2 linked regions of the Homo sapiens genome follow. The protein of the gene in region 1 purifies or fractionates together with the protein of each later gene. This does not show direct contact. Each region holds a gene or a part of one and is shown on either strand. Other genes may lie near its edges.

Region 1 (3,831 bases):
CTTCCAGAGTGTACTCTCTCTTTCCCCACTCCCTCTTTTTTTCTTAATTGTATTTCAGTGAAACATTCTTATTCCTCCTTCTAAAGCAGAGTACCTTTTGCAGCCCACCCTGAGCCTCATTGCCTCTTAGATAGTGGCTTTCCAATTACATAAAAGTAAGAGCTGATATGTTTGTGTGCTTTCTATGTTCCAGCACTATATAAAACACTTTGTATGTATTATCTGGCTGAATCCTCATAAAAACCTCTGAAGTCAGCCGGGCGTGGTGGCTCACACCTGTAATCCCAGCACTTTGGGAGGCCGAGGCAGGTGGATCACGAGATCAGGAGATTGAGACCATGGTGAAACCCCGTCTCTACTAAAAATACAAAAATTAGCCGGGCGTGGTGGCGGGCGCCTTTAGTCCCTCGCAGCTACTTGGGAGGCTGAGGCAGGAGAATGGCGTGAACTCAGGAGATGGAGCTTGCAGTGAGCCAAGATTGCGCCACTGCACTCCAGCCTGGGTGACAAAACGAGATTACGTCTCAAAAAAAAAAAAAAAAGAAAAGAAACACCTCTGAAGTTGGTACTCATATTTTTTTTATAGTTGAGAAAACTGGGGTTCAGAGAAGTTACGTAACTTTTTCAGTCTCTTATTATTTTCTATCCCTCTTACCTTTTACCTATTTTTCTTTATAGTACTTAGCACTTCCTGTTATATTAGATGTTTATTTCCTTACTTGTCATTCATCCCCTAAACCCAACAGAATGTGTGGCCAGTGAGGTTAGACCCTTTGTTTTCTTCACTGCTGTATTCTCCAGAGTCTAGAACAGTGCCAGGCACATAGTAGGTGCACAGTTGATATCTGTTGGATGGATGGATGAGCTCAGCTCTGCCCTGTTCCAGAATCCATTCTCTTATCCCCTCTGCCTTTTACTCCTTCCCATACAGAAGCCTCACATCAGCAGTCTGGGTGGGGCCATTCCTAAGTGACCTGATTTGGACCCTACTCTTGATCTGTCATGAAGAGACTTGTGCTTAAAATTTCATCACCGCTCCCAAGTTTGTTGGTGTTCTTATTACTGCCTAGTCAGTCAACCAAATCTGTCATTTCAGAGTGAAACTTGGTTCTTTATAAGTACTAAGTCTCCATCCAAAATATCTTGACCCTATTTCCACTGCCAAGGATCATTAGTTCTTCTATGGACTATTTTTATAGATCCGTCTCCCGTCTCTCTATTTTCCACACAGCTATTAGGATGATTTTTACCTCTTTTTTTTTTAACTTTTATTTTAGGTTTGGGGGTACATGTGAAGAAGGTTTCCTGTATAGGTAAACTCGGGCTGTGGAGGTTTGTCATACAGATTATTTCATCACCCAGGTATTAAGCCTAGTACCCAATAGTTATTTTTTCTGCTCCTCTTCTTCCTCTCACCCTCCAGTCTCAAGTAGATCCCAGTGTTTGTTGTTTCCTTCTTTGTGTTCATGAGTTATCATCATTTAGTTCCCACTTATAAGTGAGAACATGCAGTATTTGGTTTTCTGTTCCTGCATTAGTTTGCAAAGGATGATAGCTTCCAGTTTCATCCATGTTCCTGCAAAAGACATGATCTTGTTCTTTTTTATGGCTGCATGGTATTCCTTGGTATACATGTACCACAGTTTCTTTATCCAATTTGTCATCCATGGGCATTTAGGTTGATTCCATACCCTTCCTGTTGTGAATTGTGCCGCAGTGAACATTTGCATATATGTGTCTTTATGGTAGACTGATTTATATTCCTCTGGGTATAAACCCAGTAATGGAATTGCTGGGTCGAATGGTAGTTCTGCTTTTAGCTTCTTTGAGGAATCATTATATTACTTTCCATAATGATTGAACTAATTTACCCTCCTACCAAGTGAATAAGTGTTCCCTTTTCTCTGCAACCTCACCAGCATCTGTTATTTTTTGGCCTTTTAATAATAGCCATTCTGACTGGTGTGAGATGGTATCTCATTGTGATTTTGATTTGCATTTCTCTAATGAGCAGTGATATTGAGCTTTTATTCATATACTTGCTGGCCTCATGTATGTGTTCTTTTGAAAAGTGTTCATGTCCTTTGGGGTTGTTTTTCTCTAATACATTTGTTTTAAGTTCCTTATAGATGCTGGATATTAGACCGTAGATTTGCTCAAATTATTCCTGTGGTCAAAATTTTTTGTGACTCCTTACTGCTTTCACAGGACTTGGCCCTGGCCTTGCTTATCTCACCATTTCTCCTATCCAAACAATATTTGATATCAGAATACTCAGAGTTCCCTTAACACATTAACTTTATCTTGACTTTATTTTGTTATTCTGTTTTCCTTCATTGCCTTCCCACCATCTTTTCAGTCCCAACTCAATGGCTACCTTCCACTTCATTTAAGTATTCCTATACATGTTTATCTCCTCTACTAGGTGATGAACTTCTTGAGGATGAGGACTCTGTCTTCTTCATCTGCATATGCTCTTAGCTCCATACATGCAGAAGATTCATATAGATGTTTAGTTAGTGCATATATGCTTTTGGAGAAGCCCACTTTAATGTCTCTGGGCCTCAGTTGCCTTGTCTGTTTCTGAGAATTACTGTTAGGATCAGATAATATGATGAAAACGTATTTACAAAATTTGAATTGTTATACAAATATAAGGCAATAACTGCAAGAAATGCTTACAGTGATTGAATTCAGTATGTTCCTTGAGACTTGGAAACTTCTAGGAGATCCCTCCACCCTAAAAAGTTATAGCTCTTATTACAACATTGAGCAATTTAATCTGTAATTTTATGCACAAAGTAGAAAACGAAGGTATATACAAAGTGGTTTTGTGAAATTAAATAACAGAGAAAAGAAGAGTATTTGGTATCACTGTTGTTTTTGGCAGATGCATAACTCAAGGAATGGATTAGAAGGTAACATTAAGTTGTTTGTATGAGTGGAAAATTAATTTGCCCTAGGACTTAGTTATATCCAGTGTTAGTTTTTACTTTATTCATGAGGTGAGCTCTGATATTGGCTGCTTCCCTCAGTTATTTTGTGTATTCTGCATCATGGCTTTGTAAAATATAAGAATGTTTAAATATTATATATTATTAATGCTTGTGTCCTATACACATTTTTAAGGCCAGGCATGGTGGCTCACATCTGTAATGTCAGCACTTTGGGAGGCTGAAGAAGGAGGATCACTTGAGACCAAGGAGTTTGAGACAAAGGAGTTTGAGACCAGCCCCGGCATCATAGGGAGACCCTCCCTCTACAAAAAATTTTTAAAAATTAGCCAGGCATGGTGGTACATACCTGTGGTCCTAACTACTTGGGAGGCTGAGGTGGAAGGATCGCTTGAGCCTGTGAGGTTGAGGCTGCAGTGAGCCATGATCATGCCACTGCACTCCAGCCTAGGTGACAGAGCAAGACCCTGTCTCAAAAAAAAGATTTAAAAAATACAGTCTTTAGTGTCTATTCATTGCATTTTTATTACATCCTGACAAACTGAAAAGACTAAAATCTTTTCCTATTTGAAATATTCTATTTAAATTCACATAAAACTTGTTTTCTTTTTAAATACTATGGTATTATATTATAGTTTGTGATATTGCTGTAATGATACCAAATCTTATCTTCCTCTCTCTTTTTATAAAAAAATGAAATAGTAACAAAAAGGAGTGATACAGTATTTAAAATAGTCTTTATTAAATTTCCTTATATGAAAGGAATTTTCCTTTTACAAGTATTCTGAGCTTGGACAGCTATGATTGAGACATCATTAAAATCTCCAGAACTGTCTAATTATACTGTGGCCCCTATAAAAATTTAATGAAAAATTCT
Region 2 (3,831 bases), on another chromosome or scaffold:
AGTTAGGAACAAACATACCAGTTTCTAACCTATCCCCATTTAGGGATAAGATCAGGCCTATCCCCAATTAGGGAGTTAGAAAGATGGAAATCCAAAAGATTAAGGACACTTTGATCTTACAGTTTTCACCAGCAAAGCTTCTGACAGCAAGCATGTTGTGACTCCACGCAAATAGTGTCAATAAATTACACTGACATTAATGAATTTTCATAGAAAATAATTTTGGGAGCATACTCTATTAAGAAATTTGAATTCCATTACCTATTTTCTATTCAATGCCTTTAAAGACAGAATTTTCTTTTCCATTTTCATGTGATTGAAATTATTTTATAGACATTAAATATTTTCTGGGTAAATTTTATAATAAAAATTTTCCTAACCATAGCTCCTCCATACTGATTTTCTTCAATGGCAAATATTACTGCTAACATCAACATTTCCCAGTTCACTTTCGATATTTTGAATGTTACCAACAAGTTATCTCCAATTTATTGTCCATAACAAATTTAATTACACGCATTTTAGCCAATTTTAGTTTTTTTTGGGGTTATTTCAATCAGTAATTTTTATTACAAAACAGTTTACTATGAACTATAAAATTTTAAGCAATTTCTCCCACAGAATTAATCTATGAGCAGATTGGTTACTGATTATTACTGCAAATACTGAAGATATTCCAAATAACTTTGCTATCTGAAATAACAGCCTAGTCTCCTGAAGGATTAAAAAGGACCTATTTGGGTCAAAGTGGGGTATCTTAAAATGTCTATCTTTCTGTCCCAAAAGTCAAAAGCACCAACCTGTGTAAATGATTACTTTGGAGAGAAATGATACACAGTTGAATATGTTAAGGTGTGAAGGAACTTCAGAGGTACTCTAATGTCAGAAAGATGAATGAAATTGATGTAGTAATTTCCAAATAAGAGTTACATTATAGGTATCTCCTCAAGTAGACTCTAAATTCCTACAGAACAGAAACTTAGACTTTTCTACGTTATTCAATACTGCTTATAGTCCTCAAAATTAATACAGAATTAATACAGCCAGGTCATCAAATTAAGGCAGTATATTAACTGTTAATCAGCTATGTATTTAACTTACTCTGTCACTACCTTAAGCATATAAGTCAGTATGTTTCTTCACATACCTTTTCTTTCATAGGTTTTAGGTCTACTTCCTCCACCTTTCCCTCTAATTGGTTCTCTAGTTTTTTAACTTTCCTTTGGAGTTCTTCAATTAGACTTTGTTTATTATCTGTCAGGGGTTTGCCCTAAAAAATAAAATGTAACTTTATATTTTTACAAATAAATGTAAAACAAAATAGACAGTAAATATTTCAATTATATAATAGCAACTTTCTGAAGCTATCACTGACCATACTTTCTAAATGACACTTAATACATAAGATAATCTGGTAGCTGCTTCTGCATTTTAATACAACATACTAATATGCTACTCTAGAACTATAAACACAATAGAAGTCACAAAAGAAATTAATTACATTAATCAAAGTGATTTGAAAGTCAGTTTTAACAAATACCATAGATAAAATGATAAAGTAGAAATAAACTACTACCTCTATATTGTAAATCAGACATTATCAGAGTTAAATATAAAATTACCTGTAATCCACTGGTTAGTCTTTTAATTTGCCTTTTCAGTTCATCATTCTCTTGATCAATTTCCTCTTTCTCTCTAAGTATTTTATTATAGGCTTTTTGTTTCTTTTGCAGTTCATTATTTAAGTCATTCAAATTATCAGTTAGTGAGTTTTCTCTGTTTTTACTTGTTTTAAGTGCTTCTTTCAATTTTAAAAGATTTTCATTTAAATCTTCAACTTGTGTCTAATAAGAGAAAAAGAAAGGTATTATTCATGACTCTTCAAGAAGTATCAATGATAAAAGGAACATAAAACAGAAAATATACCATTATAAGAAAAATTCAGTCTGAATTTTTAAGTACACAAGAGAAAAAAAATAACCACAAACTACATATATTTTTCCATATTCATGTCAAGTCTACCTTGAGGAAAAAAGTCGACTTTGAGAAAAAAAAAAAAAACTAGTGTAAAGCAATTCATCTTCAACAAACACCCACAAACAAAATTTTATCAAATATGCACGTTTCATTTTGGCTGAATTAATTAAACAAACAAGTATATAACAATATATATGACAACGTTTTAAACACTATGAAGCATAAGAGTAGTACAGAACAAATCTCTGACTTGAAGTAATTTCTAACCTAGTTTACAAAGATAAGATATAAAAGGGTAACTTACAATACTAGACAATATGTATGCCACTAGAAAGGAGTTCCTAGCTGTCCTATGGTGAGAATGATGGGGACACACTGTATGTTTCCATCTATAACATATTCTGGAAAAGGTGAAACTATGGAGACAGTAAAAAGATCACTGGTTGCCAGGGGTTTGGTGAGGTGCAGAGGAAGGAATGAAGAAGAGAGGCACAGAAGATTTTTAGGGCAGTGAAAATACCCTGTATAATACTATAATGATGGATACATATCATTATACATTTGTCTAAACACACAGAGTGTAAAATACCAAGAGCTAAAATAGAGGTAAACTTGGACTTTGGGTGATTATGATGTATCAATATAGGTTCATCAATTTTAACAAATGTACCACTTTCAGGGTAGGAGATATACAGGAAATCTCTGTACCTTCCTCTCAATTTTGCTGTGAACCTAAAATTGCTCTAAAAAAATAATAAAGTCTTAAAAAAAATCCTAAGTAAAATATTTCTTAAATTTAATTTCATTAGAAACAGTAGTTCATAATGGCCTATCCTTTCCTAATCCCCAAGATGATAATCAGTAAATGAGTATCATAAAGAGACTTATTGTTGAAAAATGCATGTGTGTGTCTATGTCTAGCCACCAACAGTGCATTATAAATTCCCTATTCATCAACAAAATTACTATATATCATAGTGAATTCTCTTCCAATAGGAATTATCAGAAATTTTGTTACATTAACACGTGTTGATGTTCACCTTTAGCTCTCTAGTATGTCGATCAACGATTTGTTGAACATTGAGATGGGCCTCTTTTTGAGAAGTTGCAGAAATAATACGTTCTTCAGCAGCTGCTGTCATTTCTGCCCGGAGTTCTAAAAGTGCCCGACTAAGTGCCTAAAAATTAACCAAAAAAAAAATGTAATTTTTAAAGGAAAACTGACATTTTATATGAATATATGATATAAAAAATAAACAAGCTTTATTACTTCCTACTATTTTTCTAAAATATTATGAGTTTAATGGAACATATTTCACAAATTAACAACTCAACTTTTTCAAATAAATCTTTTGTAATTACACTCAATTCTTTCCACATTGAATGTGAAAGTTCAAAATCTTAATAATGATTTTGAGAACTCAGCATTAAATCAAGCTATTACAAAAAACAGGTATGTTTTGTTTTCAAACATCCAATTTTAGATATTTATATTACTCACTTACTACATCCTTCCATATGAAATTAATTGAATTTAGGTAGACAACAAAAGGACTAGGAAAGGCTTAAAGTTTACCCATAAATTTCATAGCTAGCACAGAAAAACACCAGCATCTTCTAAAACAATTTAAATAGATCAAATCTGAGATAAACTAAAAAAAACCCTAATAAATCAGAATACACTGACCAACTCCTTCTCACAAAAACATCTCTATGACCCCCTTTTTTCATCCCTTTTTGTCATTATCATACTTCCCTCAATCCCTCAAATTGTTCAAAATTGTTCATTTGTTAAAAATAGCCTCAGTAGCATAAAATTCCAGTAGAAAAAAAGAAAATACAATGTAATATATA

What was found.
Region 2: the proteins of KIAA0586 (region 1) and CEP290 purify together in Homo sapiens (co-immunoprecipitation; one study listed by IntAct). This does not show direct contact.

The regions. Positions count from the first base shown.
Region 1 is NC_000014.9:58,542,606-58,546,436, forward strand, and holds part of KIAA0586 (protein TALPID3), read left to right. Parts: intron 1-1,277; coding exon of another isoform or gene 1,278-1,362; intron 1,363-3,831. UniProt on the Homo sapiens protein: Required for ciliogenesis and sonic hedgehog/SHH signaling. Required for the centrosomal recruitment of RAB8A and for the targeting of centriole satellite proteins to centrosomes such as of PCM1.
Region 2 is NC_000012.12:88,076,075-88,079,905, forward strand, and holds part of CEP290 (centrosomal protein of 290 kDa), read right to left. Parts: intron 3,156-3,831; coding exon 3,018-3,155; intron 1,845-3,017; coding exon 1,623-1,844; intron 1,271-1,622; coding exon 1,148-1,270; intron 1-1,147. UniProt on the Homo sapiens protein: Involved in early and late steps in cilia formation. Its association with CCP110 is required for inhibition of primary cilia formation by CCP110.